Linked DNA regions of Homo sapiens. The protein of the gene in region 4 purifies or fractionates together with the protein of the main gene of each other region. This does not show direct contact. Each region holds a gene or a part of one and is shown on either strand. Other genes may lie near its edges. The genes, in order: RTCA, FARS2, YLPM1, USP45 and SAFB.

Region 1 (6,079 bases), on a different chromosome or scaffold from region 4:
GATCCTCCCACCGCAGCCTCCCAAGTAGCTGGGGCTACGGGAGTGTGCCACCACACCTGGCTAATTTTTTGATGTTTTGTAGAGATGGAGTCTTGCCACATTCCCAGGCTGGTCTTGAACTCCTGGGCTCAAGCAGTCCTCTGACCTCAATCTCCCAAAGCGCTAGGATTACAGGTGTAAGCCAGCATGCCCAGCCCTAGTCTTAAGCATTTTTTAAAGTGACAAAAGTAACATATATTAATTTAAAAAATTAATCATTACAGAAGTGTCCCATACACAAAACCACTGTTGCTGCCCTACTCCTATTTGTATGATGATCCTTTTTCTTTTCTTTTTTTTTTTCTTAAGATAGAGTCTTGCTCTGTTAGCCCAGGTTGGAGTGCAGTGGCACAGTCTTGGCTCACAGCAACCTCTGCCTCCCAGGTTCAAGCAATTCTCATGCCTCAGCCTCCAGAGTAGCTGGGATTACAGGCGTGTGCCACCATGTCCAGCTAATTTTTGTACTTTTTAGCAGAGACAGGGTTTCACTGTGTTAGCTAGGCTGGTCTCAAACTCCTGGCCTTACGCGATCTGCCTGCCTTGGCCTCCCAAAGTGCAGGGATTACAGGCATGAGCCACCGCGCCTGGCCTTTCTTTTTTTTTTTTCTTTTAAGAGACAGGGGCTTGCTCTGTTGCCCAGGCTAGATTACAATGGCAGTATCATAGCTCACAGTAGCCCCGAACTCCTGGGCTCAAGTGATCCTTTCACCTCAGCCTATCAAGTAGCTAGGACTGCAGCTGTGCACCACCACACCCTGCTAATTTTTTTTTTGTTTTTGTTTTTGTTTTTTGAGAGACGGGATCTCCCTGTGTTGCCCAGGCTGGTCCTGAACTCCTGGGCTCAAGTGATCCTCCCACCTCAGCTTCCCAAATGCCGTGATTACAGCTGTGAGCTACTGTGCCCAGTTTGATTCTTAATTATGTATACTTTTAATTGTTATTAAGAAACATAGATAAGTTTTTGTTAAATTGTAGGAAAGACTGATGGGAATTAAAGGCAAATTGTATTTGATGTCAAGAGTGTTAACTCTATTTTTTTTGTTACTCTACTTATGCTGTATTTATAACTATTACTTGTCTGTCTCTCCTTATAGATTGATCTCCTTAATAGCAGAGATCAGGTTTTATTCATTATATTCTTTACTTTTCACAGTACTTTACATATAGTAGATGCTTACTTGTTATTTGAAATGTATACATAACGGAAAGTGCTATGAACCTGTGTATAGCTTGTATCTTGGTCAGCTTTGTTGTGTATAACTGGGTGACTTGGGGCAAGTTTCTTATCTTTCTTTGTCTCAATGCAAATAGTTATCTGTAAAATCAGACTTAAGCTAGATAGGCCTGCTATGCTCCTTTCAGGTCTACATATTTGTAGTTTTAAGTAGGTTTATGTATAGGCTAGAAATGATTTTCATAGCTGCTACGTGTGTTTCATATTTACATAATGCTTGTAATTTGAAAAATATATAAACGCATGCATATATTACTAATTAATTAATATGGTTACCTAGCTCAGAATTCAGCATTTATTCATTCAACAGTAATTTCAAGTGTCCACTCTGTGTCAGTACATTACCATGTAATGCTGAAAGTGAAAGAATTTTTAAACATTACTATTCATTCAGTAAGGCCCCCAAGTGATGGTTTTCAAATTGTGCTTCCAAGAATCCTAAGATTTTAGGCATATTTGAAATCCTTTTGCCACAAACTTAACCTATTTAATTGTTTTGATTTTTTTTTTTAAGACGTTGATGGGAGTTGTGAGGAGTCTTCCTGTGTTGCCCAGGCCAGCCTCCTGAACTGAACTCAAATGATCCTTCCACCTCAGAATAGCTGGGATTATAGGTGTGCACCACTGCACCTGGCTAGTTGTTTTGATTCTAAATTTAGTTTTGTTAAAATGAATCACATTTGCTTTAAAAATAATGATGTTTTCAAAATACAGTGATATAGGCCAGGCACAATGACTCATGCCTGTAATCCCAGCGCTTTAGGAAGCTGACGCAGGAGGATCACTTCAGCCTAGGAGTTTGAGCCTGGGCAACAAAGTGAGACCCTGCCTATACAACAGAATTAAAAATTAGCCAGGCATGGTGGCATGTGCCTGTGGTCCCAGCTACACTGGAGGCTGAGGCAGGAGGATCCCTTGAACCCAGGAAGTTGAGGCTGCAGTGAGCCGTGTTCATGCCACTGCACTGCAGCCTGGGTGACAGAGCAAGACTCTGTCTCAAAAACAGAACAAAAACAAAAGCAAAATACAATGATACAGGTAAAATATTTCAAAGCCAACTTTAGTTACTAAGTGAAAAATGTGATGTTAAGCCCAGTACATTAAAGATGAAGGAAGATGTTAATCACCACCACCACCCCTCCTCCCCACATACCTTCTCTGAACTGGATCTTTTGAACGATATATATAGGGAACTAAATTAGCAAGAAAAAATGTAAAGAAATTAAAGGGTAATTTGTGACTTGACAAGATAAAAGTAGAAATGTTTCAGAAAAATTTTAGGGCATAGGGAATACAGTTGCATTAAAATTACCATTTGAGGTTTCAAAATTGTTATTTGCCTAAGCTGTACATCTGAGCTTTCTGATTCAGTGTGCGTGGAAGGGGCCCAGGCATATATATTTGGACAAAACTCACAGGTATGTATACCTCTGAAGAAGAACCATGGTTGTACAATGAAATGTGTTATCTTGAGGCTATTAAGTTTCTTTCTCATCAATCATTTGATCTTTGTGTCTCTGTAGGTTTTTCAATAAAATGGGCTTGACATTAACTCTCTGCCTACATAAGTTGGAGTTGTGGGCTCTTTCCTCCATCTCTCTTCGTATTACTTATATACTCCTCTTCTGATTTCAGGCTAAATTTATTGTGAAGAAATCAGAAGATGAAGAAGACGCCGCTAAAGATACTTATATTATTGAATGCCAAGGAATTGGGATGACAAATCCAAATCTATAGAGTATTTGCCTCTTAAATGATACCTCATTGATATATTGCACTATTTCATAAATACTATAAAATAATGACTAGGAAGTAACTTATTAAAGGCTATGACTTAAATTTGAAGATGAAGTACAGTGTTCTAGGTTTGCTGAGAAGGCTTCATTAAATTAATCTCACTTTGAATATCTCCTGAGAGATGGACAATGAAATATCAGTTGGTGGATATGTGTGATAGCTGATTTCAATATTGAAGTATTGAAATAAAATATTCTTTACACCTGAAGTAAATACATTTTTCTTTTTTATGTAATTAATTAAATCAGGGATATAGATTTGATCTGTAATTTGGGTATAATTCTAATCTTTGCTGAAATCACATCTCAAGTATAATGAGGCAACTTTATGCAAATGTACTTGTTGTGACAACAATAACATTTTCCTTTTTTTTTTTTTTTTTTGAGACAGTCTCGTTCTGTCACCCAGGCTGGGGTGCTGTGGTGTGATCTTGGCTCACTGCAACCTCTGCCTCCCGGGTTCAAGCAATTCTACTGCCTCAGCTTCCTGAGTAGTTGGTATTACACCACCATGCCCAGCTAATTTTTGTATTTTTAGTAGAGACAGGGTTTCACCATATTGGTCAGGCTGGTTTCGAACTCCTGACCTCGTGATCTGCCCGCCTCGGCCTCCCAAAGTGGTGGGATTACAGGCGTGAGCCAGTGCACCCGGCAACAATAACATTTAATAGGCATTGTCTCATTCTAATGATATATACCTTCTACCTAGTGGGCACTTTGTACATATTTATTTTTTATTTTATTTATTCATTTTTTTTGAGACAGAGTCTCACTCTGTCACCAAGTTGGAGTGCAGTGGCACAATCTCAGCTCACTGCAACCTCCGCCTTCCAGGTTGAAGTGATTCTCCAGCCTCAGCCTCCCGAGTAGCTGGGACTCCAGGCACGTACCACCATACCCAGATAATTTTTGCATTTTTAGTAGAGACGGGGTTTCACCATGTTGGCTAGGATGGTCTCCATCTCCTGACCTCGTGATCCGCCCACCTTGGCCTCCCAAAGTGCTGGGATTACAGGCATGAGCCACCACAGCTGGTCGTAAATATTTTTTGAATTTGAATCTGTTTTGGAAGCCAAATATGTTTTGGAAGCCAAACAATTAAGAGAAGTAAAATTTTAACCCTAGTAGGTTTCGCAGATTCATCCCCAGATATGTTTTTGTTTGGCTTGTGTTATTAACAAATAAATGAGTGTCTTTCAAATGGAATGTGCTTTCATTATTCTCTGTTATCTTACACCCAACATGCTTCCACATTTAGATGTTTTCCTGTTCCCGGTAGCAGTTGAGGTTGTGACTCAAAGGAAATCAGTTTGGTATGTCAGCTTAATGTGTTGTACTACAATAGAGTGTGTAATTCATTAAAACTTGGGTCTATCTTGGACCTTTTCTCATGATGATTAAAACATAGTCCAAAATGTAGATCCAGAGGATGCTCTATGATACATTTAGAAAGTCCTGAATTAGTCTGTATGGAACAGTAAAATGAAAAAAGTTGCCATGTACATAGTCATTATTCTTATCCTTGTCTGTGATATCTATGACCTTGGACAGTTGGGTTCAATTTGCTTTAAAGTTGATAATAGTGTTACTTGCTGTTTATGTTTTCACATAGTGGGTAAGTTTTGTAAGTTATTCATTTCTGTAATAGTTGAGATATATCTTTCTATTTTAGAGTAAAACTTTTTTAGAGTAATACTACACTTGTTGTTCGAGGGATTGTGATAAATTTGGGGGTCTTCAGACTGAAATGATTTCTGTACTTCTGATGAGGTGTGCCAGCAGTGTTAAAGGTGTAGGCTGGAGTGCAGAGATTTTGCCTCTGGGAGTGAGAGATTTAAATTCAACAGTATACACGGGGAGTTTACGATTAATCTTGGCTTAGATGTGTCACTGTTATTGAGTCTCAGCGGTAAGTCCTACAAGTGACTTGAATTTCTATTTTCCAAAAAACTTCTATTCTTATGTCTGTTCTTTATCTAAAATTCCATTTCAGTATGTTTGTTTGTTTGTTTTAAACTACCAAATGCAAGTAGTTCTGTTGATTTGACACTGTAGAACAGTCTTTTAAGAATATTCTTTAAACCAGTGGCCTTCAAACAGGGGTATTCCTACCACTTGAGTTTTACAACGCTTTTCCATGAGATTCAGGTTTTGCAGATGTCAGTGGTTTTTAGAGAATTAGTTTCCAAGTTTTGCTACTTAAATGTGTACTTTCTCCTAAAATTGAGTTGCTTAAAGTCAAGGTAGGTGTTTGAAGGTTCTTTTTAGCATCTTTTTCACAATTGCCATTCTTCCTTTTTACATAAGAAGTTTATTTTTTACCAGTCTTAGTGCATTTTCCCAGAGTTGTAAGAAAATCTCCAGGGTACCACATAAAGGGGCATTTTGAAATACTAGTCTCTGAAAAGCCCACTCAAACTAAGATATGAACCTGCATCTTATTTGTGTATTTTGCATGATTTTAAATAAGGAGGAGAAAGCTTCATTAATATGTTTATCTATTCAGTGTTTCAATAGATAAACATTACATCTTTAAACAGAATTTTCTTTTCTGATTACTAGGAGAACCATTTTTTTTTTAATTGCCAAAACGCTATTAGAATGTTTAAATCCTTTTAAACTTTGGGAGTTTACTGCTTAGTAAAAATTTCACTTCATTGCTCTCTATTCATCCCTACCATGTGCAGTGTGCTCTAGCTTCTATAATCTATCTTATATTATTGTGTAGTTTACATATTATTAATAGATATATAGATGGTGTTTTGTTTTGAGACAGTCTCAAAAGTGCTCAACAGCTGCCTATTGAATTATTAAATATGTCCTCAATAATGCTAATTTGGTGAACAATTTCATTTCCCTTTATGTTCTTCTGTCCTGGTTGTGATACTGAATTATTAATTATTAATTTTTATTTTTTTTGAGACGGAGTCTCACTCTGTTGCCAGGCTGGAGTGCAGTGGCGTAATCTTGGCTCACTGCAACCTCCGCCTCCCGGGTTCAAGTGATTCTC
Region 2 (6,525 bases), about 94 Mb from region 4:
GCAACAAAGACCCAAACACTCAGAACGAATACAGCATGGGAAGCTGCAGTGGTGGACAGAACAAGTTATCACTTGCATAACAGACCAACCATATTGTTGACCCACTTATCTCAAGCACAGATCCAGGTTGGTTAAAGAAAGCCGTGGTAGGCAAAGCACTTAATTCAAAATATGTAAAATGAAAATCAAAAATTAAAATCACATTTTAACTTGAGTTTCTTACCGACTAGATTTAAACAATGGGTTTCAAGGTATGCAGGAAAAGAGTCACACAGGTGAGGACTCAGGGTCCCATCAATCAGAGACTGTTGCTAGCACCCAGGAGAGTGCCCCACAGCTGGACAGAAAAATGTACAGGACAGGATGTGGAGGCCGCACAGAGAAAGACACCACAGAAGCCAACACAGCCTAGAGCATCACTTAGGAGGGCCTAAAAGGAGACCAAGGAAGAGAAATTTCTGCTTCTTGCACAATAGGATTCCCAAATGGCTTCCAGAGTTTCCTGGCCAGGGGATCCACAAGTTCATAGCTGCCAGCAGGCCTTTTCCCCATTTTCTCGCCCCACCTCTGAGATTGCAGAGAATTACAATCATTTTAAGTATTTTTCTCAAGGCAGGTCAACTGTAGTAATAAAACAAGTTTTCTGTCAACACAGTCCCCTCTTATATATGTAAATATGACTACTCTACATAAATAGTTAAAAATGGCTAACACTTTAATACTATCCTTATTTTTTATCCCTAAAGACAAACCACTCTATTATATCTGAAGGCAAGCAATCTGTCATGACGAAATAGGATATAAAATGGCACAAGTGATAGGCTAAATAATAGCCCCCTTCCACAGATATCCATCTCTTACTCCCTGGAACCTGAGAATACGTTATCCTACATTAAGATCTTTATAGATATAATTAAGGAAGGATGTTCAGATGAGGTGATTATCCTGAATATCCTGGTGGGTTCCATGTAATCAGAAGAGTCCTTCGAAGAGGGAGGCAAAAATTCAGAGAGAGGGTGAGGTGTTTACAGAGGGAAGTGGCAGGGCTTGGGGGAAGGCAACGTGATGCTGTCATAAGCTAAGAACTGAGGACTGTCTCTAGACGGGCAAAGGCAAGGGAACAGATTCTCCCCCAGAGCCTCCAGAAGGAACCAGCCCTGCTGACACCTTTACTTTAGGCCAATCAGGCTGATTCTGGATTTCTGTCCTCCAAAAATATAAGATAATAAGCTCATGTTGTTTTAAGCTTCTAAGTTTGTGGTAATTTATTATAGCAGCAACAAGAAACTAATACGTATTTTTGTATCTGGAAGTGAGGTATTGCTTGTAACAAATACATAAAAATGTGGAATTAGCCTTGGAATTGGTCAGTGGGTAGTAGATAACTTGGAGCACCATGATATTAAATGGCTATTTTGCCTTAAAGAGACTCTTGTAGAAATATGGATGTTATAGACTGTGACAGGCAAGGAAAAAGTGAGGAGCATGGTAGAGAAAACCTATACTGTCTGAGAATATCCAAATATTCATAAACATACTGGTGGTAGCAATACAGATGTCAAAAGCCCTGCTGGTGAGGGCTCGCAAGGAAATGAGGAACATGTTAGTGGAAGGTGGAGGAAAGGGGATCCTTGTTCATTCATAGCGGCAGAATTAGATGAATTGGAAGTGGAAAGCAAAACTTGTAAACAATGAACTTGGATATTTAGCTGAGGAAATTTCCAAGCAAACAGTGAAAATGCAGCCTGCTTTATTCTTGCAGGAGAAAACAGACAAATTAAGAGAACTGCTATGCAAAGAGGAGCAAGATTAGATAATTTGGGAAATTCTTAGCCTATCTATACTGAAAAAGACAAAAAGTTAGGGGTTTTGCTGAAAGAAAAGTGCTTTGGAGAGAAAGCCATGAGTGCAGCTATACAACCCTTTGTTAATGCCTCAGAAGTTTTGAAGGATCAGGGTATTTAGTCAAACAGAGGGCTCTTTGAAGAAATTAAGCATATGAGTCAAGGATCCCCTCAGGCGTCTCAGCAGAAGCCAGAAATAGCAATGAATTATTCAAGAAAGATCTGCAGAGGAGCCTCTTGTGTAATGGAATGAATCCCTATGATATAAATGGGAGAGCCACAAGGTTTTTGAGAATGATTTACCATCAGGAACACTGTCAGCTGGAATTGAGAGGGACAAAAGAACAAAAAGAGAAGGAAAGAAAGAAGGCTATTTGACTCCCCAAATTCTTCAGGCAAAAGCCAGGGTAATAAAACAACTCACCTGCATATACATGCCACCCTTAACAAAAAAGGAGGTAAGGCACAGTGGCTCATCATGCCTGTAACCCTGACACTGTGGGAGGCCAAGGCAGGCAGACTGCTTGAGCCCAGGAGTTGAAGAACAGCCTGGGCAACATGGCAAGACACCTTCTCTACTAAAAACACAAAAAATTGGCTGGGCGTGGTACCATGTGCTTGTAGTACCAGCTACTCGGGAGGCTGAGATGTAAGCCTGGGAGGTGGAGGTTGCAGTGAGCCGTGATGGCACCACTGGGCTCCAGCCTGATGAAAGAGCAAGACCTGGCCTCATAAATAAATAAAAGAACTTTAAAAAAGAAGGATATTTTAGAGGGTAGAAATACAGGTCAAATGGGTGAAGCCAAGGGCCACAGAGAATTATCCCCAGGCCTTGAAACCTAATGGCTGAATTTTGAAATAGCTTGGAACCAGTGATTCTTTTTCTTCTCCTTTCATTTTCTCCCTTTTTGAATGGAAATGTCTACAACTATTCTCCAATGCCTATCCTACTCATTGTATTTTGGGAGTAGGTACCTCGCTTCAGGTGCAAAAGTGGGGAGGAATTTTGCCCCAGGATGAATCATACCCAGAGTGTCACATAAACCAGCTTTAGATAATTAAATGATGAAATGGGACTTAGGGGCTGATGATATTTAGATGACATTTTGGATTTTGAGTTGATTTTGCAATGGGTTCAGAGTTTGTGGGACCTTGGGATAGGCTGAATGTATTTTACAAAAGACAGATGTGAATCTTTAGGGGTCAAAGGGAAGACTCTGGTAGACTGAAAAATGCCCCCAACCCTACCCAAAGATATCTACGTCCTAATCCCTGTAACCTAGAAATACATTACCTTATATTCAACAGGAAATTTACATTTCCTTTTGTATTAGAGAATTAATTTGTATTAAAGTATTAAAGGATTACTTTAAGAGAAGTATTTTGAGATGGGAAGATTATCCTGAATTACCCAGCAAGGCTTGATACAATCATAAGGATCCTTATAAGAAAGAAGCAAAGGTCAAAGAGAAGGCAATGTGACAAAAGATGAAGGAGAGAGAAAAGGCAACATGATGCATGGCTGTGATCCAAGGACTGAGGATGGCCTTTAAAAGCCGGAAAAGGTGACAGTTCACAAGGACAGAAAACCAAATACCGCATGTTCTCACTCATAGGTGGGAACTGAACCATGAGAACACCTGGACACAGGGCAGGGAACATCACACACCAGGGTCTGTCGTGGAGTGGGGGGAAGAGGGAGGGATAACATTAGGAGAAATACCTAATGTAAATGACGAGTTAATGGGTGCAGCAAACCAACATGGCACATGTATACATATGTAACAAACCTGCACGTTGTGCACATGTACCCTAGAACTTAAAGTATAATTAAAAAAAAAAAAAAGCCAGAAAAGTCAAGAAGGTGGATTCCCCCAAGAGCCTACAGAAGGAGTCAGCCCTGCTGACACCTTAACTTTAGCCCAGTTGGGTGGATTTTGGTTTTCTGACCTCTAGAACTGTAAAATAATAAATACATGTTGTTTTAAGCTACTAGATTTGTGGTAACTGGTTACCTAAGCAACAGGAAACTAACAAGAATAGATACTAATTATAAGTGAATACTTAGGTAATAGTATGATCTATAATCTATACTTCACAAAGTATTTTATGAACATATACTAAATATGAATGTACAAATCCTAATTGCCCCGTTAGAAGTTCTTAAGTTTGTTACACAAAGACAACTATAAAAATTATATATTAGTGCAGGTATGCATATATTGGCTTTCAAATTTGAAGGCAGAAAGGAGAAAAAAAATGACATTTAGTGCAAGAGATCAAGAGTCTATTTCTATGTGTCTCATAAAAAAAGATTGTTGTAAGTACACTTAAAATTGAATTTAAGCCACTTAATTCTGGTGGCAACTGTGTTTTTCATCTTTATTTGTCACACCATGGTGTTGAGCACACCATTCTACACGATGTTGGTGTTCTTTAAATGTTTGCTGATTAAATAACTGACAATATATTAAAAAGAGAATGAGAAAAAGTTACAGCCCTAGCCAGGTTTTATTGTAAATTAGATACAGCTTTATTTCAAATTAGTCTACAAGGAAATTGATGCTAAAATAAAACAGATAATTATTCAAGTAGAAGTTTTTAAAAGTCCTCATAAGGTAAAACCAAAAATATATGCATATATACATAGAAAGGTTCAAGATGCAGATGGGCACACACACAAAATCAGTGTGCTTCACTATAACAATAACAAAATACACTCATAAAAATCATACCTGTCCTTAAAGTTGATGATATGGTTTGGCTGTGTCCCCGCCCAAATCTCAACTTCAATTGTATCTCCCAGAATTCCCACATGTTGTGGGAGCAACTCAGGTGGAGGTAATGGAATCACAGGGGCCGGTCTTTCCTGTGCTATTCTCGTGATAGTGATTAAGTCTCACAAGATCTGATGGGTTTATCAGGGGTTTCTGATTTTGCTTCTTCATCATTTTCTCTTGCTGCTGCCATGTAAGAAGTGCCTTTCGCCCACCGCCATGATTCTGAGGCCTCCCCAGCCATGTGGAACTGTACGTCCAATTAAACCTCTTTTTCTTCCCAGTCTGGGGTATATCTTTATCAGCAGCATGAAAATGGACTAATACAGTTGAAAAGGTCTGTACACAAATATAAATAAGTATAACTCCAGAGAGAGATGAGCCCTTCTAGGGTAGACAGACACTGATGGCTGCTGTCGCCACTGGGGCGTGAGTAGGCAGAAGAGCTAGCCTGCTACTGGCAAAGACATTTTGTTGGAATAAGAAGAATGAGCCACACTTGCGTCAGCCAAGCATGGGCTGGCATGGCAGATTGGAAAATGGAGAAACAGAGCTAACCCTCACTGCCAGCCAATTCTCCTTCATAATATTTCTGCTTACAAACGCTGGTGGTGGAAGAAGCTGGTAAGTGGATGGAAAGCAGAAAGAGATCCTGTGATCTCACATGGTTAGATCCCAAACTCTGCTGCAGGGCTAGATCTCACCATCAAGAGGAAAGCAGATGTGAAATTCAACTCAACTCCTGATTAGAACAAAAAGATCTGGCCTAGTCACCTTAGCAGCCAGAAGGTAGAAAGCATAAGACTTTCTGGGGATAAATTTTATCTACCTCAGTCTTTGTCCATTCAAACACAATTAAAAAAAAAACAAAAAGACAAGTGAAGCAGCAGGAAATATGTAAGCCATGATTAGGAAGGGAAAACAACCACAACAAAAGAACACTAGATAATCAAATGGTTGGAATTAACAGACAAGTACTTTAAAATAACCATTATGAGGCCGGGCGCAGTGGTTCATACCTGTAATCCCAGCACTTCGGGAGGCCAAGATGGGCAGATCACCTGAGGTCAGGAGTTTGAGACCAGCCTGGCCAACATGGTGAAACCCTGTATCTACTAAAAATACAAAAGTTAGCCAGGCATGGCAGTGTATGCCTGTAATCCCAGCTACTCGGGAGGCTGAGGTGGGAGAATTGCTTGAATCCAGGAGGCAGAGGTTGCAGTGAGCTGAGATCATGCCATTGCACTCCAGCCTGGGGAACAGAGCAAGTCTCCGTCTCAAAATAAATAAATAAAATAAAATAAAATAAAATAAAATAACCATTATGAATATGTGAAAGAATTTAAGGAAGAATGGATGAAATGGATGAAAAAATCAAGCATTTCAGTAGATAAATGAAAACTCTAAAAAGGAAGCAAATGCAAATTCTAGAATTGATAAATACAGTTATCTGGGGAATGATTAATTCACTGGATGGGCTTAATGGTTACTTGGACAAAACAGGAAAAAAAAAAAGATGAGCAACCCAAAGAGAAGACAATAAAAATTATCAAAAATAAAGCACACAGGAAAAGAAAATCGTTAATTAAAAAAACCTTTCATCAGAGTTCTATGGCATAGGATCAAATGGTCTAACATATATGCAGCTTCATTCTGAAAAATGAATGGAGTAGAATTGTTGGAAAAGATACTAGATGAGGGCTGGGCGCAGTGGCTCACTCCTGTAATCCCAGCACTTCGGGAGGCCAAGGCGGGCGAATCACAAGGTCAGGAGTTTGAGACCAGCCTGGCCAACATGGTGAAACCCCGTCTCTACTAAAAATACACAAAATTAGCTGGGCGTAGTGGTGGGCGCCTGTAATCCCAGCTGCTCAGGAGGCTGAGGCAGGAGAATTGCTTGAACC
Region 3 (6,525 bases), on a different chromosome or scaffold from region 4:
AAATTATTTCATTAGACAGAGGTTGCAACCTGGTGATTTTTTTTTTCTGCCATTTCTTCCACAGTTACTATATGGAGTTATGTAAAGAAAAACTTTTGCCACAGATATTTGATTGGAAATACAGTTGGTATAGGAAGGACAAGATAAATACTTGATATTTTTCCAGGTGTTTTCTAGTTTTTCGGGTAAAGTGTTGATGATTTAATGGAATGTGTTTTTTTGTTTGTTTGTTTCTGAGAGAGAGTCTCACTCTGTCGCTCAGGCTGGAGTGCAGTGGTGAAATCTCGGCTCACTGCAACTTCCACTTCCTGGGTTCAAACAATTCTGCCCTAGCCTCCCAAGTATATGGGATTACAGGTGCATGCTACCATGCCTGGCTAGTTTTTGTATTTTTAATAGAGATGGGGTTTCACCATGTTGGTCAGGCTGGTCTCGAACTCCTGACCTCAAGTGATCCACCTGCTTCGGCCTCCCAAAGTGCTGGGATTATAGACGTGAGCCACTGCGCCCGGTCGGAATGTGTCTTTTTGAATAATTAATTTTTCTATGTGTTTAAAGGACTGATTTATTTAGTTAAAGCTGTTGGCTTTGATTAGTTTTTAGAGGTATCATTTATTTAATGTTTAAATACTTACGGACTAGCAACTATGTGCCAGGTACTATGAGTACTGTGCTTAATACTGGAGATGAAATGGTTAACAAGATAGACATGGGACCTGCCCTCATTGACTTCTTGTTTCAGTTGTGGGGGAAGGGAGAAGACATTTAGTAAGTAATTAAGAGGAGACGTACAGAGTGCTATGGGATTATAAAATATCACTAGATTATTCCCCAAGGAACTGGCAAAGGCAAGTTTTTTGTTTTTTGTTTTTTTTTTAAGTTACCACTGTATTCACAGTACCTTGCATAGGATCTAGCGCATAGGAGGTGGAGAACAAATATATTTTAAATAATTGAATATAGCTGGGAGCGCTAACCTAATTAAAGAGGATTCCCTTTGTAAAGTGATATTTTTTATTTTTTATTTGTTTTTATTTTATTTTATTTATTTTTATTTTTTTGAGATGGAGTCTCGCTCTGTTGCCCAGGCTGGAGTGCAGTGGCGCGATCTCGGCTCACTGCAACCTCCGCCTTCCGGGTTTAAGCAATTTTCTGCCTCAGCCTCCCTAGTAACTGGGATTACAGGTGCCTGCCACCACGCCCGGCTAATTTTTTTGTATTTTTATCTTTTTTTTTTTTTTTTTTTTTTTTTTTTTGGAGACGAAGTCTCACTCTTGTTGCCCAGGCTGGGGTGCAATGGCACGATCTCGGCTCACTGCAACCTCTGCCTCCCGGGTTCAAACAATTCTCCTGCCTCAGCCTGCCTCAGCTACTCCCAGGAGTAGCTGGGATTACAGGCGCCTGCCACCACGCTTGGCTAATTTTTGTATTTTTAGTAGAGACGAGGTTTCACCATGTTGGCTAGGCTGGTCTCGAACTCCTGACCCCAGGTGATCTGCCTGTCTCAGCCTCCCAAAGTGCTGGGGTTACAGGTGTGAGTCAGAGTGCCCGGCCATTTTTTTTTGTATTTTTAGTACAGAAGAGGTTTCACCATCTTGGCCAGGCTGGTCTTGAACTCCTGACCTCGTGATCCACCTGCTACGGCCTCCCAAAGTGCTGGGATTACAGGCGTAAGCTGCCACGCCGGGCCTGTAAAGTGATATTTAAATGAACTCTAAAGAATAAGTAGGAGGACTGGGTGCTCACACCTGTAATCCCAGTTCTTTGGGCTCATTAGAGGCCGGGAGTTCAAGGCCAGCCTGGGCAACAAAGTGAGACACCCCCCCCCCCGCCCCCCGCCCACAAAAAGTTTAAAAAACTAGCCAGGTGGCCGGGCGCAGTGGCTCACGCCTGTAATCCCAGCACTTTGGGAGGCCTAGGCGGGCAGATCACGAGGTCAGAAGATCAAGACCATCCTGGCTAACATGGTGAAACCCCATCTCTACTAAAAATACAAAAAATTAGCCGGGCGTGGTGGTGGGCGCCTGTAGTCCCAACTTCTCAGGAAGCTGAGGCAGGAGAATGGTGTGAACCCGGGAGGCGGAGCTTGCAGTGAGCCGAGATCGCGCCACTGCACTCCAGCCTGGGCGACAGAGTGAGACTCCGACTCAAAAAAAAAAAAAACCTAGCCAGGCATGGTGTTGCATGCCTGTAGTGCCGGCTACTTGCGGGTGGCTGAGGTGGGAGGATTGTTTAAGCCCAGGAGTTCTCGTGCCACTGCACTCTAGCCTGGGCAACAGAGTGAGACCTAAAAAAAAAAAAAATGAGTAGGCCAGGTGCAGTGGCTGATGCCTGTAATCTCAGCACTTTGGGAGGCCAAGGCAGGCGGATCACTTGAAGTCAGGAGTTCAAGACCAGCCTGGCCAACATGGTGAAATTCTGTCTCTACTACAAATACAAAAAATTAGCTGGGTGTGGTGGTGCACGCTTTTAATCTCAGCTACTTGGGAGGCTGAGGTGGGAGGATCACTTGAACCCAGGAGGCAGAGGTTGCAGTGAGCCAAGATTGCCCCACTGCTCTCTAGCCTGGGCGACAGAGTGGGACTCCATCTCAGTTAAAAAAAAAGAAAAAGAGTAGAAATTAACCAGAAGTTAGAATTCAAAGAATTAAGTTCAATAAGGCTCACTGAAAGCTCAGGGTGAGGATGGTAGGTATGAACTAGATCAGGGAAGGCCTGTAAGGACTTCATTCTAAGGGCAGTTGGAAGCCATTGAAGGATTTTACATAGGTGAATGTGACAGATTGGCATTTTTGAAAGCTCACTCTGCTTGCAGTGTGGAGAGCAGAATTAAAAGGAGCAAGAGTGATTTAGAGAGAATAGTTATTGAAGTAATCCAGGCAAGAGATAATAGTGGTTTAGACTTTGATGGTATTAGTTGAGATGGAGAGAAGTGGGAAGAGTGGAGAAATATTTAGCTGCTAGAATTCACTTTGAGGTTGAGTAGTTATGGAGAGGGAGGCATCAAGAATGATTCTTAGGTTTCTGGGCTGGGCCGTAGGGTGGATGGTGGTCAAATTTACTAAAACAGAAAAACCTAAAGGAGGAGGAGGAAGAACATTTCTGGGGGTGAGGAGAAAATCATGAGTTAGGTTTCAGACATACTGAGTTTGGGGTTCTTGAGACATAGATTCCAAATGGAGATGTCCACTTGGAAGTTAGATATAGCTCTGGAGTCTAGATGTAAGATCTGGGAGACATAGATTTATAAGTCATCAGCATAAAAATGGTATTTGAAGACACAGAAATAGATGAAGCCTCTCAAGGAATGTGTGTAGAGTAAGAACTGAGGTTAAAGGACATTAAGCCTAGCTCCACAAATAGCAGTATCTAAGGGAACCAATGAAAGAATGGCCAAATAGGTATTCATATTAGGTTGGTGCAAAAGTAATTGCAGTTTTTGCTATTACTTTTAATGGCAAAACCACAGTTACTTTGGCACCAGTGTGATAGGTGGAAAATCAAGATAGTGGATAGTGCGTTGCCATGAACGTCAAGGAACAGACTCTAGGAGGAGGGAGTCGTCAGCTGTGTGAAGTACTGCTGAGACGTCAAGCAAGATAAAGACTGCGAGTTATCTTTTGCACCTACTGACATGTAGATTATTGTTGACCTTGGCAGGAGCAGTTTCATAGTGACTGAAGCCATATTGCATTGATTTGAGGAGTGATGGAAGGTGAGGAAATGGGGATGGTGAGTACAGACAACTCTTTCAAGAAGTTTGACTGAAGGAGAGAGAGAATGAGGGAAGGAGCTGGAGGAATAGATGAAGTAAATGAGCATTTAAAATAAAAATAGGTGGGGACTAAGCTTATCTGGTGACCCTGATTCTTACAGTAGAATGTGAATCTCAAAAATATTTAAGCCTATTTTAAATAAATTTCTAAAATGGAAACCCAATTCATTATTTTACCAGGTGTCCTCCCTGCCCCCTGCTTTAGAATATAAGACATAGAACATTGTCTTATAGGCATTTATGATAACCTGGATAGGGAAGGTAATCTTCTAAAATTAATCTTTAAAACATTACACACAAACACTCACCTCCTTTATAGTTCTCCACTTGGAAAATCATTTAGTATCTAGTTCATTACTAGCAGCAGTGGTCAGTAAGTGCTTCCTGAGTAAATTAAAATCAACATCTTTCTTTTTTTTTTTTTTTTCTCAGAGAGATGGGATCTTGCCATGTTGCCCAGGCTGGTCTGAATTCCTGGGCTCAAGCGATATTCGTGCCTCGGCAGCATCTTTCTTAATAACAGTATTTGTGACAAATAGTTCTATATTCTTAATTTTTTTTTTTTTTTTGAGATGGAGTCTCGCTCTCACCCAGGCTGAAGTGCAGTGGCGCGAGGATCTGGGCTCACTGCAACCTCCGCCTCCCAGGTTCAAGCGATTCTCCTGCCTCAGCCTCCCGAGTAGCTGGGATTACAGGCATGTGCCACCACACCCAGCTAAGTTTTGTATTTTTAGTAGAGACAGGGTTTCACCATGTTGGTCAGGCTGGTCTCGAACTCCTCACCTTGTGATCCGCCCGCCTTGGCCTCCCAAAGTGCTGGGATTACAGATGTGAGCCACCGCACCCAGCCAATAGTTCTACATTCTTTATGTTTGAAATCCCTTCATTCAATCTCGTTTTAAATGTGACCTATATTATGATTTCCCTCTACCTATAAAACAACATCCCATATGAAATGGAGTTATCTGATATGATGGGACATTCAGAAGAGCTGGCATCATTAGCAAGTTCAGGCATTTTTTTTCTTTCTAAAATAGGGATGATCACACTTCTCTTAGGGTCAGTAAGGACATTTGTGAGTGATATCATTATTATTTATTTGCAGAGCTTCAAAAATGTGCTGAAGCCTACCATAGGATTGAATTAGATCTGGTTACTACTTATAGGGTTCATATTAAATAGAAATTGACCTACAAGGCGGCCGGGCACGGTGGCTCACGCCTGTAATCCCAGCACTTTGGGAGGCTGAGGTGGGCGGATCACAAGGTCAGGAGATCGAGACCATCCTGGCTAACATGGTGAAACCCCGTCTCTACTAAAAAATATAAAAAATTAGCCGGGCGTGGTGGCGGGCGCCTGTAGTCCCAACTACTCAGGAGGCTGAGGCAGGAGAATGGCGTGAACTCGGGAGGCGGAGCTTGCAGTGAGCCGAGATCGCGCCACTGCGCTCCAGCCTGGGCGACAGAGCGAGACTCCATCTCAAGAAAAAAAAAAGAGAAATTGACCTACAAGGCATACTGTCAGTGAATCAACAAGTACTTCAGCCCTTAACAAGTTCTTAACCCTGGTCTGGATCTAAGACAAAGCATGAGAATAGGTGATGAAGAAGCTGATAAAGAATCTGGACCTGTACAGTTTTCATTCTGTACAGTCTTCATATCTGTAGCATTGGCTTAGTTTGTGAAAGATAGTTTGCATCTTTGTATCTTTTAATAATGCTTTCAAAGCAACTTTAAAAAAGGAAACTTTTAACTTCTACTTGAAAGAGAATGTACTAATTTTTTTAAAACTGAAGGATAAGTCTGTTGATGTTTTCAGTATTAAAATAATGGAAGGAAGTGTTTTAATGCTACATTATTATTATTATTGGCTTTGGCTTTCATGGTCAGTGTGCTGTTTTCTTTCTTTTTTTTTTTTTTTTTTTTTTTTTTTGAGACAGAGTCTTTCTCTGTTGCCCAGGCTGGAGTGCAATGGCACGATCTCGGCTCACTGCAACCTCCGCCTCCCAGGTTCAGGGGATTCTCCTGCCTCACCCTCCGGAGTAGCTGAGATTATAGGTGTGTGCCACCACACCCTACTAATTTTTGTATTTTTAGTAGAGGCGAGGTTTCACCGTGTTGGCCAGGCTGGTCTCGAACTCCTGACCTCAGGTGACCTGCCCGCCTAGACCTCCCAAAGTACTGGGATTACAGGCATGAGCCACTGTGCCTGGCCAAGTGTGCTGTTTTCTTACGTTGAATAGTAAAAGTACAGATACTCTTTGACTTACAGTGGGGTTACATCTCAATAAACCCATTGTAAGTTGAGGATAATGTAAGTTGAACATTTAATACACCTAGCCTACTGAATACCATAGTTTAGCCTAGCTATTAAATGTGCTCAGAAAGTTTACATTAGGCAAAGTCATCTGGCCACACAGTACACAGTAGAGTATTGGTTTTTTTCTTGTTTTGTTTTGTTTTCTTTGAGATGGAGTCAGTGAGTGGTGCGATCTTGGCTCACTGCAACCTCCACCTCCTGGGTTCAAGCGAGTCTCCCGTCTCAGCCTCCCAAGTAGCTGGGATTACAGGCACCTGCGACCATGGCCCAGCTAATTTTTTTGTATTTTTTTTGTTTTGAGACGGAGTCTCGCTCTGTCGCCCAGGCTGGAGTGCAGTGGCGTGATCTCGGCTCACTGCAACCTCCGCCTCCTGGGTTCATGCCATTCTCCTGCCTCAGCCTCCCAAGTAGCTGGGACTACAGGTGCCTGCC
Region 4 (6,525 bases):
TTGAAATACAAAAAATTAACAAATTATCAAAATAAAAAGTGTTTAAGAGTTTAAATTCCTTGAGAATAAAAACCATCATACTTTATGCATACTTACACAAACCCCCAAATCAGACTCAATTATGAATACAAACTCAATTATATATAAAAAATAATGACTCTCAGATATCTGGTAATATACTCAACAAATGTTTAAATAAATGATTAAATGTTCTTCACCAAAGCTTCATCATTAGTTTTCTTCTCCTTACCCTTTCTTCTATTATAGGAAGTGAAATATCAATGAATGGATCTTTCACCGTGGAGATCTTAAAAGGAAAACACATTGAAAACTTCAGTTAGAATTCTAATATAAACATACAGTTTTGTAAAGTACAAAGAAATCAAACTTCCCGGGCAACCTAAAATTTTACGTTAAAAACTGTTCCTGAAAAAAATAGCAATTTAATTGGGTATTGCAGCACATTGTTAATCAAAACAAGATATTCTCAAACATCAGTGAATGGTGATCCAATTGAATTTTATATTACTGTCAATATGACTGGCCTGTAATATTTAAAATAACTTAAAAAAACTGTTTAATAAAACAGATTAACTAAAGAGACTAGACATTTTTGGTTAGCTTAGGGCTGTAACATAAGTAAACTATGAAATGTTAAGAAAAAGCCATGAAAAAAAGCAGAGAGCTTGGCTGTGTTTTATAGATTCTTTAAGATAATTTTGTTTTAAAAGATACTCTCTATCTTGTGAGAGAGAAAACAACTTCTGTGTTGAATAGTCTAGAAACTTAAATAATCATGGTCATGCATTCTGTGTTTCAATGTGACAGGCTAGAATGAGATATATTTTATAATCCTGCTTCTTTAAGGCTAGAGAACACAGAAAAATACTCATAATCTGGGACAGGAAAATGAATAAAGGCTCCTTTTACTATTAAAATCTAACAGAAATTTAAACCTATCATACTCTAAGTCATACACTTACAGAAATATTCCTTGCCAAGCAATTGAAAATCTACAAAAAATTCATACATGCTTTAAGTTGTTAAAGATGGCATTCAAAATAAAAATTATTAAGTTCAAAGTGAGTGAAGTCTACACAAAAATCTTTAATACGTCATATAAACTTTAAATCAAAGGTGATATAACCACCCTAAATTATGTTAATACATTAAGTTATTTCTATTGGAATTAGTTTTTTTTTTTTGAAACTGAGTCTCGCTCTGTCACCCAGGCTATAGTGCAGTAGTGCGATCTCGGCTCACTGCAACCCTGCCTGCTGGGTTCAAGTGATTCTCCTGCCTCAGCCTCCCGAGTCATTGGGACTATAGGCACCCACCACCATGCCTGGCTAATTGTTTTGTATTTTTTTAGTAGAGATGGGGTTTCACCATGTTGGCCAGGCTAGTCTTGAATTCCTGACCTCAAGTGATCCGCCGGCCTTGGCCTCCCAAAGTACTGGGATTATAGGCATGAGCCACTGCACCCAGCCTGGAATTACATTTTAGGGCACTGCAACGTAGCACAGTTACTCTCTTCACAGAAGTTTTTCTCTCACTTCAAACAGATAGCTAATGAATTTCAGTATATTAAGATAGGCTAAAACTGCCTCATAGGTGTGTCATGAGGAAAAATAACACAAAAATACATTTACTTTTAAAAATATATAAATTATCACATTTACTTTCTAGGAGTGTAGCGTATAAAAAGACTTTCAAGAATCATTATGTAATCATCTGTCAAATTTTAAAAATGACTGCCAATGATTATATGTGAAAGAAAATATAATAAAAATGATGTGATTGTAATCCATTCCATGCTGAATTGAATTCTAAAGTACCTACATTTGCACATTCTTCACACATGACCGTGCTAGTTAATTCACCAATAAAGATCCGATCTATGAAGTTCATTTTCACACCTTCTTTTCCATATGCTGTAAAAATCATACTTTTTAATGCAAAAAACATGTCAACCATCCATCTAGCAGTATAATAGGCTATCTTCTGGTTATTCAAAAGTAATCTGAATAAGATATTCTGTACTACATTTAATAATACATTTTACTATACATACAACATTCTAAAGTCTTTCTCCTTTACAATTTTGTAGCAGATTTACGACTATCAACTACTTTAGTCTCCAAGAAATAATGAACTATTCTTAAGAGGTAAAACAAAACAACCACTATTCGTACCACACCTCAACCACTCCCATTAAAACTTATAAAACCTCATGTCTAACCAATAAGTACCCAGAAGAATGGAAAAGGAGATTATGCTATCAGGACTACGGATGCCAGGATCACGGCTATGAAAATAACAGTCGTAAAAGGCAAGTGTAAGGAATTAACATAGGTAATTAAGAACTCAAGAACATGGTTATATTTTTAAAAGTTAAAATTATTCTGCTCAGGAAATATTTATAAATTAAAAAAATGCCAATGACTTAGTTTAAAATAACCTGAGGTTGGGAGAAAATGGATTAAACATAAACCATGAACGCAGTTTAAGTTGGGTGACAGATATAAAGGGCTGCATTATGCTATTCTCTCTACTTTAATAAAAATTTGAAACTTTCCATCATAAACCATGGGAGGAAAAAGTATATTAACAAACCTATTCACCCCTCTTTCAAACTTCTTTTTTGAGCCTCTATCTTCAAGTTTCATACAAACAATATTCAAAATCATTTAAAATATTAGAGCACTGAATGACAGAAAACATGTGAATATATCAGTAAACATTAATTAAAATTGTATTTAGAAATACTATAATAATAAAGATATTTCTTCTAGAAAAACTAAAAGGGATTGGAAATAGTACAAAACTGGAAAGAGGGGGAAGAAAAACGGGGCTGTTATTCTAAACATCCACGAGATGGCACTATCTCAACACAAAAGAACAAGGCATATTTGAGCAGCTACGTTTTTTAAAAATCTTGAACCCTTAATTACAATAAAGTGCACAGTAACAATGTGTGTATGTTTGCAAATTATAGACCTGTAGTACATACATTATAAAACCACAAAAACAAAAGTTAGAAAAAAATACAAATAATATTTTTAAATGTCTTCTAAAAATCACTTCATGCTAACATTAGTTAGTATCTCAATGCAGAATATACATTTAGGGCAAGGTATATAAACCCTATATAGTATTGATAATGATAAATAACCAACTTTGATTAGGTAATCATCATTTGGGGCTCATATTTTTATGGATGAATAGCAAACACTAGGAGTAGGCAAAGTGCACTTACACTTGACTTACCAGCACTCTCTTCAATAAACGGTTTATTTGCAGGAGTCTTTGGAGCACTTAAACATTTTGTCTAGTTACATCTAAAAAATATCCATAAATCCATTGATCCAAACACATGTCAAATGATACAATATGATACATATGAACTTCCAAGTGTGGTTGCTACTTTCAACAACCTTTCAAGTTTCCCTTAGAAGACCTCACATAAAGGTATCGGTGTCAATCTGTATACTTGGTATAGCTTTATTCTTATAAATTCACATGAATACATTCTAGCATTTTCTATGTTCCACTAAAGTATTTTTCAGACACTGCAGCAACTACGTCCTCCTTTTAAAGCCACTACTTTGGTGGATTAGTTCACATAATGTTCAGTTCTTTTTCCAACTAAAATAAAATTTTAATATTTTCTTAAAGAAAAAAGTTTTAACAAAGAGTCAACATACCTTTGACTTTTTTTCTAGTTTCATCATCAGCAGTTTTAGTAGTTGGGTTGTTAAATGCTTTTAGAATGCTAGCTTGTATTCGCTGTAAAACAAAGTTAATAGATTCTGGTCTAATAATAGTTAACTCAGGCCTCATCCTCCTAATAAAAGTACTTTCAAACAGCAAGGTACACTGTGGATTTCAGTTCCCTAGTTTGAAAATAAAATGACCAAATTTTTTAAAAAATGTAATTTCTTCCAGGTCTCAAATTCCATGAATAGATTGCTCTAATGTCAAATTTTCCCAAGTAAGAGTCAGAATTTTTACATTTAGGTTCTCTCTTGGATTTAATGTATTTTTATCAGTGTACAAAAAGCAAGCAGCCTAGTCCTGTTGCTTAGCATAAATTAATTTGCCCTCTTTCTTCCTTCTCCCTCTCTCTAAAATGACACTTCTTAATTAGGACCAAAAAAGAAAATAGACCATATGAAATTTATTGTCTATGAAGACCTTTCTATATTAAGAAGCTATCAAGCTGGTTACTATAATCTCTATGCTATGTGGACTACCTCATTTATATACACATATAACTAAAGTCCAAATTTATCAATTAATGTCCATAGCAAGAAGAATCCCCCAAATTTTAATTATGGTTTTACTTGAACTTAGTTGTCAATAATGATTATGTTTTCAGCAGCTCTCAGTAAATGACAAGGTTTATATTAACTATTTCTACATCTCTTGTGTATGTTTTAGGAAAGATCCAATCTCACAGAAAAGTTTCAGAATAAAACTACATACTCCAAGAATAAAACTTAGTAAGTGACCTTTTAACATTAACTATGCCCCTAATTAGTGGATGAATTTTGTCTTCCTAATTCAGATTATGACAGTAGGATGAGGGAAAAGTTTAATTATCTTTCCAAAAAATATATATATAATTAATATATATATAATATATATATATATATTTTTTTTTTTTTTGAGAGTCTTGTTTTGTTGCCCAGGCTGGAGTGCAGTGGTGTAATCACTGCCCACTGCAGCTTTGACTTCTCTGGGTTCAAGTGATCCTACTGCCTCAGCCTCCCAAGTACCTGGGACTATAGGCACACACCATGACACCTGGCTAATTTTTAAAAATTTTTTTGTAGAGATGGGGTTTTGCCATATTGCCCAGGCTGGCCTTGAGCTTCTGAGCTCAAGCAAGCCACCTGCCTCAGCCTCCCAAAGTGCTGGAATTACAGGCATGAGCTGCCACACCTGTTTTTTGTTGTTTGTTTGTTCGTTTTGTAGAGACAGGCTCTTCCTATGTTGCCCAGGCTGGTCTCAAACTCCCAAAGTGCTGGGATTACAGGTGGTGCCTGGTCCTTCCTATCTTTTAATTGGAAAAGATCACTATGATATATTAAGTGAAAAAAGACAAAGTACAAGTTATATATATGGTATATGCCACCTTTTGAATAAGGAAAAAAAGAGCATAAAGGAAGAAAGACAAGAACACGGGATATAAACAATGGCAAAGTCAAAACACAAGAGAGGCAAAGGGATCTCCCAGGAGCATGGTTAGGAGGAATTCCAGAGTGACACCTATACATCAGATATGAGAGGTAAAGAACCCAGATTGGAGCAATGAGACTTATGAATCAGAAATATTGTCAACACCAACATCCCCTTCTGCCATTATAACATGCTTTTAATCTAAGAACACAATATTATATGGAGAAGGAGGTGATCACATTCTTATTCTCGCTCCATGCCCTGCTGCCTGGATAAGCAGAAGACACTCATGACCCCCAGAATTGTTCTGCTGTGTATGATTTATGTTTCTTCTGTGTATGATATATGTTTTTTAACACATCCTCCTCCAACAATTGTGAAACCGAGTTTCACTTATTACTAACTGGCCTGTGATTAACACATTATATTTCCTATAACTGTTCACTGTCCTCAAGCATATTTTGAAAATTAATACAAGATTCAAAACACTTAAATATTTTACAAAGTAGGGGATAAAAGCAAACATAAAGCAATTCATACCGTGTGACACAAGTCCTGAAATACACTTATATACTATAAAGAAATCAAACAATAAAATGTCTCCCAGAAGCTATTAAATACTGAAATAATCTCCAATTCAGACTCAATAAATTTGAAAGTTGATATAATTCAGACATTGTCTAAGCTAAAGTTGGCTTTTACACCTTGAAAAAAGAATTTATTGAACTAAAGTAAGCAAATTGGAATTGTGTAAATTCCATGCAGGAGAAATATTTAATGAACTTAAATGAAAAATTCCAATAAATACCAATGTTCACTCGCAAATATTTCAGATAATCATAACATTTCAAACAACTCAAGAGAAATACTTCTAACTCAACTCAGTCTGTAAATTTATCCTACAATTTAAACATTTTACTAATTCAGACATGATTTTTGATATGATTTAATGAAACTTTGCTATATATCCTGAAATGTCATATCACTCAAAAGAAGCTAAGAAGTTACCAATTCAAGCAGCAGGAAAAAAGCTAAAAAGCTGTGATTACACTCTAAAAAGAGTAAAATGAAATTGTTTACATTATTAACTTTTAAATATTAGACTTTTGCTTTTTAATTTTGATCCTAACCGTGAATTTATATTCTCTACTCCAAACTGTTTAAAAGTCAATTAATAGGTAATTCATCAAGTTGAGGAAAATAAATGAGTTTACGTCCATATACAATTCCTCATTGTTAAGAGTTGTGCTTTGAACAATTTAGGTTAAAAGAAAGATACATACTTTGGTCAGGGAGCTGTTAATAACTGTAGCACTTAATCAATTAGCAGTATCAAGGTTC
Region 5 (6,525 bases), on a different chromosome or scaffold from region 4:
TGGTTAACTAACCAGGTTCAAGGGTGGCACAGACCTCCTGAGGAGGGAAGCTCAGGCACGTAGAGAGCGCCACACGTGCCCTACTGCACCTCCTTTAAGGCCCTTTCCTTTTTTTTTTTTTTTGAGATAGAGTCTCGCTCTGTTGCCCAGGCTGGAGTGCAATGGCGCGATCGCTGCTCACTGCAACCTCCACCTCCTGGGTTCAAGCGATTCTCCTGCCTCAGCCTCCCTAGTATTCGAGATTACAGGCACCCACCACCACACCCGGCTAATTTTTGTTTTTTTTAGTAGAGATGGGGTTTTGCCATGTTGGTCAGGCTGATCTCAAACTCCTGACCTCAGGTGATCCACCCACCTCAGACTCCCAAAGTGCTGGGATTACAGGCGTAAGCCACCACCCCCGGCCTTGTCCTGGCTTTTTAAATCCATTGTAATTTGTTTTTGCTTATTCTAGAAATAAAGAATTAAAAAAAAATTTTTTTTTGAGACGGAGTTTTGCTTTCGTTGCCCAGGCTGGAGTGCAATGGCGTGATCTCAGCTCACTGCAGCTTCCGCCTCCTGGGTTCAAGCAATTCTCCTGCTTCACTCTCCCAAGTAGCTAGGATTATAGGCATGTGCTACCACACCCGGCTAATTTTTTGCATTTTTAGTAGATACCGGGTTTCACCATGTTGGCCAGGCTGTCAAACTCCTGACCTCAGGTGATCCACCCACCTTGGCCTCCCAAAGTGCTGGGATTACAGGCATGAGCCACTACGCCCGGCAGTAAGATTAATTTTAATTTCTCAAACATACTGAAGAGGAGGTATGAACACAAAATGCTGAGCATGGCTGCTGTGAGGAGTCAGGTGTGTAATTCCAGCAGTGATTGTGTCAGGCTTTACACGTGCACTGCAACCTGGCAAAAATTGCTGTTTGTTGTTTCTTTCTATTGCATGGGTTGAAGAGGAGCCCAGGTCATATATACAATGCAACTTCTATAAAGGGCCTTGTAAACTGTTCTAGGATCTATTATGCTTTGGTACGAAATCCTTCTGATGACAGTTCATTATGGTCATCTGTGTATTGCAGCAGTACATGGCCAGGGCTGCTGGCAGGGCAGGAGGTCAGCTTTGGGGCGAGAGAGATGGCAGGTGCACTTGACAGAGCCCCTCGGGGTGGAGGCTCACGTGGTCTTCCTGAGCGGAGGTGGCTGTGTAGGGCTCCAGAAGCCATCTGCAGGCAGCCCATAGGACTGACTGCTTAACTAATGGCTCCCTCTTTGGAAAACCGAGGCCGCTTTTCATCAGGGGAGGTGGGTGCATGGGACAAAACAAAACAACTGTGCAGTCACTGGGGTCAAATCAGACCTTGCCTCCTATAGGAGAGAACACTCTTGGTGAAAGTCATCCTGGTTCTGTGAAGTGCTAGGGGCCAGCTCCCACAAAGGTGATAGATACATTTGGGGTGGGGGATCCCTCTATCTCTGTCTCATGTCCCCTCACAGGCGAGATGATGCCTATTGGCCGGAAGCCAAGCGGGCCGCCCTGGATGAGCGCTACCATTCTGACTTTAACCGCCAGGACCGCTTCCACGACTTTGACCACAGGGACCGCGGCCGCTACCCCGACCACTCGGTGGACAGGTCAGTTGGGCCCCTGCTGGGCGTGCGGGTTTTCTTTTTCCTGGCTCATTCTGACTGAGAACAAGGACTCCTGGGCTCTCTGAACCCACTCCGTTCATCAGATGTATGCTGAGTCAGACCCGCAGGTCTCCTGCCTTCAGTTAGGGAAATTATGCTTTTCATTGGGGGCCTGATGGTCCTCTCTTTGTGAACAAGCCTCTTCTTCCCCTTACGGTTTGATTTAAATTGCCTTTTCAGGAGAGAAGGTTCAAGGTCAATGATGGGAGAACGAGAAGGACAGGTAAGTCTGAAGCTACAGTGGTAGCCACAGAATTTCCCATAGAATGGGTTCTTTTCCCTTCAGCGTGCCTTCTTCCTGCCCTTTCTTTGAGCAAGAGGCAAAATGAGGAAAGAGAAAAGTAAAGCACTAGAAAAGTCTAGGTTTGTGGAATGGAAATTTGGGATTATTTGGGGTTAGTCTTGGCTGTCAGTCCAAACAGTTACTCTGAAGCTGTTTTTAGCCTTGACCCTGGGGTTCTGTGTGCCACACTCACCACACATGTGCAACAGTGCCAGGGAACCTTGGGATGTGACCTGGCTCTGCTGGGAAGTGTCTAGTGAGCCGCACAGCTGACTCAGACAGGTGCATCTGGGGAGGCTGTGGTTGCTGTGTCTGTCCTCGAGTGCCTGCCCTCTTTTGAAAGTAAGGACATCCTTCATCACCCCAGGGCCCAGCTTAGCCTTGGAAAACAACTAGATCTGTGGTCTGTGCTCATTCTCTTCGGGGGCTAGCACATTAGAACAATAAGCTCCATTTTCTCCTTCCATCTTACATTGAGACTGAGACTTCCCAGGAGAGCCTTGGACCTCTAGTGGCTTTCCCTATAAACTTGGGGGCAGCACATTGCTGTGTGGAAGATGCCTCCTCTCTGAGGACTCCACTCATGAGCCCTTCCTCCTCCTGCCAGCATTTTCTGGACTCCACCATAAGCTTCCCGCTTCTGTCCCCCTTGGTTCCTTAATGTGGCTGAGCATAGCCAAGTACTCAGCTCTGTCTCGGGATCCTCAGGAATTCCATCAGCCTCGTGGGGTTCCTTTTTCCCTGCTCCTGGAGGCAAATTATATGCAGCAAAACGTAGAACTAGTCTTGTGGATTTTCTTTGGTGGAGGAGCATACACCAATGGTTCCATGTAAAGGCTCCAGAATCAGAACTGGCGTCACACCTTGGTGTCACCCCTTCCTGCTGAGCCTGTCTCCCCAGGAGTGAAATGAGGGTAATATTCCTCCTACAAAGGGTGCGGTGGTGGGGGTTTACATGAGGTGGGCGCATCTGTACAAACGTGTTTATCATTGCCAGCTACTTTTTTTTTTTTTTAATAGAGACGGGATCTCACTATGTTGCCCAGGCCAGTTTTGAACTCCTGAGCTCAAGTGATCCTCCTACCTCGGCCTCCCAAAGTGCTAGGATTACAGATGTGAGCCAGCACACCTGGCCACCAGCTGCTTTCATGAAGGTGTTAGATATGCTCTCCTAACAGTGGAACGCGGTTTGATCCCTTCTCCTCACATACACAGTCATAAATGAGTCGTCAGAGTTACCCCAAAGGGAAATGGTAACATCTCCCTACAGAGAAAACTAGCACAGAACTTATGGGCCTCATTGAACAGTTACGTGGGTTGGTTGGACAGAAAAATGTTGGTTCAATTTTCAAATACTAAGGAGAGCTTATTTCAGGAGTCCCTTTTCTTACTTTGTTGAGGGGAGGCATCAGAGCACATGCTGGGAGGATAGGCCAGGAAGCAGGCAGTGGTAACGTGGGACATCGTGCACGTGGTGGAGCATGCCGCCATCTCTCCCTTCACCCTGGCAGAGCTCTCCGTTGAACGGGGAGGTGAACTTGGACATGGACAACAACCAGCCTGTGTCAAGGGGGTTTCCTTACCAGGACTCCTTTCTAGTTTCCTTTCACCTACAATGTGGTCATGGGGCAAAAACCCCAGAGACCACATATGTATTGGTGGAAAGAGAAAAAACAGGACTGTGGAGCCAAAGCTACCTCACTAGCTTTTGTGAAAGTCAGGCTGGAAAGTGCTTCCAGCCACAGAAATAGGCTGTGGGTGTAAATATTAACCTTGGCCATCAAATAAGTAGGCATAGAGTGTGACTCGCCCTCTCTTGGTCTTCCCTGAAACAGCAGGGTCAAGAACTCCTGGTCTGTGTTAGCCACGTGGCTTACAAAAACAATGACACAGAAGAGGGAAAGGTGGGACTAGCCAAGTGGAAGGCCAGCCGTTTATCTCTCAGTGTCCTGTGTCTTATATCCTGAGCAGAGCAAGGTGCAAGACCCTGGACTGGGCATCCAGCAGAAACTTCCGAGAAACTTGACTGTGAGGAAGGATGCTTGCCTAGCAATTGGTCGGATGAAGGGCTCCATTTGATACTTCCTTCACTGTGGAAGGAAGAAATTTGTAAAAATTATTTCCAGAATATGCACACATTAAAGGTTTATAAACCTGACCTTTCTTTAGTAGAAGACAGTAAGAGAATACTGTTGGCTCTGGGAACTAACCATTTGAGCTGTGGGACCCAGGGAATCTCTCTTGTAAGCATCATCTTTAGTGGGTGACTCCTGGTGGCCCTCCCAGCTCTGGTGGTGCTGTGGGGACCTGCCTTGGAGATGCCTTGGTACTAGTACCTTTTTTGTACCAGGCCATGAGCCTAGGGCACAGGGCCTCTGGCCTGCAGATTTCAGGAAGGCAGCTGTGTTGTGTGAACCGATACAGCCTGCCAGCACTTCTGTCCCGAGTGACTGTCGTTGTCATCGTTAGCATGTTGCCTGAAAAGCCTTGGGGTCTGGGCGCTGACACTGAAGCTTTTTTTTCCCTTCTGGCTCTGTGATGTCCAGCATTACCCAGAACGCCATGGAGGACCAGAGCGCCACGGCCGGGACTCCCGCGATGGCTGGGGGGGCTATGGCTCTGACAAGAGGATGAGCGAGGGCCGGGGGCTGCCTCCTCCCCCCAGGTTTGTGTCCCACACCCGACAGTACCTGACCCCCCCCCCGCCCACAAGGGGGCCCGCAAGTCGCTGGGATGTGGGCACAGGGTGGGAAACACAGAGGGATTCACTCTCCAGAAGCCGCCACAGTTATTAGCACAAGAGCCAGAGATGGGGGCAATCCAAATCAGAGATGTCTCTCTTTCAAGGGGCAGACGTGACTGGGGGGACCATGGCCGAAGAGAGGATGACCGGTCATGGCAGGGCACGGCCGACGGGGGCATGATGGACAGGGATCACAAGAGGTGGCAAGGTGAGGAGCAGCTCTGGGCTGGGACCAGGATGTGCTGGGGAGTGATGGAAAGATGGAGGCCGCGCCTTCTCTCCTTGGGGGAGCACAGGAGGTGCTCTGCTCTCAGTGCTGGAATGAGGAATGAAGAGCACTCCAGACACCGCCTGCTCTCTGGTGGTCTGGCCCAGGAGTTGGACAGTGGGCGTTCCCGAGTTCTCTCTGCTGGGAGGAAGCTGGACGTCTATGGTCCCTGTGCCCAGGTGTCTTCCTGGGACCCGCTAGTTGTGGGTACCTGGGGGCCTCACCAAAGGGAGTGGAGTGGGCTAAATGTGCCGTGGGTTCCACGCCGTGTGCGCAAGTTCCCTGTGTGAAAGCACGTCTGTCTTCCAGGTGGCGAGAGAAGCATGTCCGGTCACTCCGGGCCTGGCCACATGATGAACCGAGGAGGAATGTCAGGGTAAGGCATGCTGGGGGCGGCGCCCCTTCCCCCTGCTTTGCATATTGGCCTACCTTGCTGGAGGCTTAACAACCAAGTCCTTCCAGCTAGTGCCCCTCCCCCCAAGGGTGACGTGAGGCCAGGCATGGGGTACTGTGGAGGCTGCTGCCACTCAGGAGGGGAGGGCATTAGGAAGGGGCCCTGCCTGCAGGCAACACTCAGGGAAGCTGTGCAGGCTGGGATGGGCCGGGGAGCAGGAGGACTTCGCAGTCAAACCAATGTGAATTTGTTCCTAGGCGCGGCAGCTTTGCCCCAGGCGGGGCCTCCCGGGGCCACCCCATCCCACACGGTGGCATGCAGGGCGGGTTTGGAGGCCAGAGCCGGGGGAGCAGGCCCAGCGATGCCCGCTTCACTCGCCGCTACTGAGTACTTGGAATCCTGTGTCCTGTCTCGTGGCAACAAGGCTATGTTCTGTTAGGAGTTACCTTAAACTGTGTAAAAATATTTTTTTTTAATCTGCTGCCATATTGTAGCTCAATACAATGTGAATTTGTTTTTCGTTTTGGGGTTTTTTTTTTTTGTAATAAATGTGTTTCCGTTCACATACCCTTTATTTAAAGTGTCATTTCTTTATTTCTGCCTCTTTAAATGAAACGAAATTAGACTTTTAGTTGTATTGATATACACTGATTGTTCCTTTTTTTAATTATTATTATTATTTTTTTTTTTTTTTGAGATGGAGTCTCGCTCCGCCACCCAGGCCTGAGAGTGCAGTGGCGCGATCTTGGCTCACTGCAGCCTCCACCTCCAGGGTTCAAGTGATTCTTCTGCCTCAGCCTCCCGAGTAGCTGGGACTACAGGCGCCTGCCACCACACCCGGCTAATTTTTATATTTTTAGTAGAGACGGGGTTTCGCCATATTCGTCAGGCTGGTCTTGAACTCCTGACCTCATGATCTGCCCGCCTTGGCCTCCCAAAGTGGTAGGATTACAGGCGTGAACCACCACGCCAGGCCGACTCTGTTTATTTTTAAATATGTGTGAAACCTCTGGGAAGGCATCCGGGTGTGGAAGAGGCTTTCCAGTGAGACAGTGATTGGTTTTCGCATAATGGGCCTGTGCGGTGCAGGTTTTGCCTGACTTCTCAAGTCACCGAGTTCTCCTTTAATGTTAGCACAGACCGGGCTGCTTTGCTC

Evidence for each region.
Region 1: the proteins of USP45 (region 4) and RTCA purify together in Homo sapiens (affinity purification with mass spectrometry; one large-scale study listed by BioGRID and IntAct). This does not show direct contact.
Region 2: the proteins of USP45 (region 4) and FARS2 purify together in Homo sapiens (affinity purification with mass spectrometry; one large-scale study listed by BioGRID and IntAct). This does not show direct contact.
Region 3: the proteins of USP45 (region 4) and YLPM1 purify together in Homo sapiens (affinity purification with mass spectrometry; one large-scale study listed by BioGRID and IntAct). This does not show direct contact.
Region 5: the proteins of USP45 (region 4) and SAFB purify together in Homo sapiens (affinity purification with mass spectrometry; one large-scale study listed by BioGRID and IntAct). This does not show direct contact.

The regions. Positions count from the first base shown.
Region 1 is NC_000001.11:100,288,495-100,294,573, forward strand, and holds the end of RTCA (RNA 3'-terminal phosphate cyclase), read left to right. Parts: intron 1-2,908; coding exon 2,909-3,010; 3' UTR 3,011-4,275; downstream 4,276-6,079.
Region 2 is NC_000006.12:5,546,345-5,552,869, reverse strand, and holds part of FARS2 (phenylalanine--tRNA ligase, mitochondrial), read right to left. Parts: intron 1-6,525. UniProt on the Homo sapiens protein: Is responsible for the charging of tRNA(Phe) with phenylalanine in mitochondrial translation.
Region 3 is NC_000014.9:74,768,033-74,774,557, forward strand, and holds part of YLPM1 (YLP motif-containing protein 1), read left to right. Parts: intron 1-3,659; exon of another isoform or gene 3,660-3,714; intron 3,715-6,525. UniProt on the Homo sapiens protein: Plays a role in the reduction of telomerase activity during differentiation of embryonic stem cells by binding to the core promoter of TERT and controlling its down-regulation.
Region 4 is NC_000006.12:99,464,830-99,471,354, forward strand, and holds part of USP45 (ubiquitin carboxyl-terminal hydrolase 45), read right to left. Parts: intron 3,790-6,525; coding exon 3,708-3,789; intron 3,702-3,707; exon of another isoform or gene 3,271-3,701; intron 1,935-3,270; coding exon 1,843-1,934; intron 308-1,842; coding exon 251-307; intron 1-250. UniProt on the Homo sapiens protein: Catalyzes the deubiquitination of SPDL1. Plays a role in the repair of UV-induced DNA damage via deubiquitination of ERCC1, promoting its recruitment to DNA damage sites. May be involved in the maintenance of photoreceptor function.
Region 5 is NC_000019.10:5,662,536-5,669,060, forward strand, and holds the end of SAFB (scaffold attachment factor B1), read left to right. Parts: intron 1-1,486; coding exon 1,487-1,624; intron 1,625-1,861; coding exon 1,862-1,904; intron 1,905-4,510; coding exon 4,511-4,629; intron 4,630-4,811; coding exon 4,812-4,915; intron 4,916-5,284; coding exon 5,285-5,351; intron 5,352-5,626; coding exon 5,627-5,756; 3' UTR 5,757-5,943; downstream 5,944-6,525. UniProt on the Homo sapiens protein: Binds to scaffold/matrix attachment region (S/MAR) DNA and forms a molecular assembly point to allow the formation of a 'transcriptosomal' complex (consisting of SR proteins and RNA polymerase II) coupling transcription and RNA processing.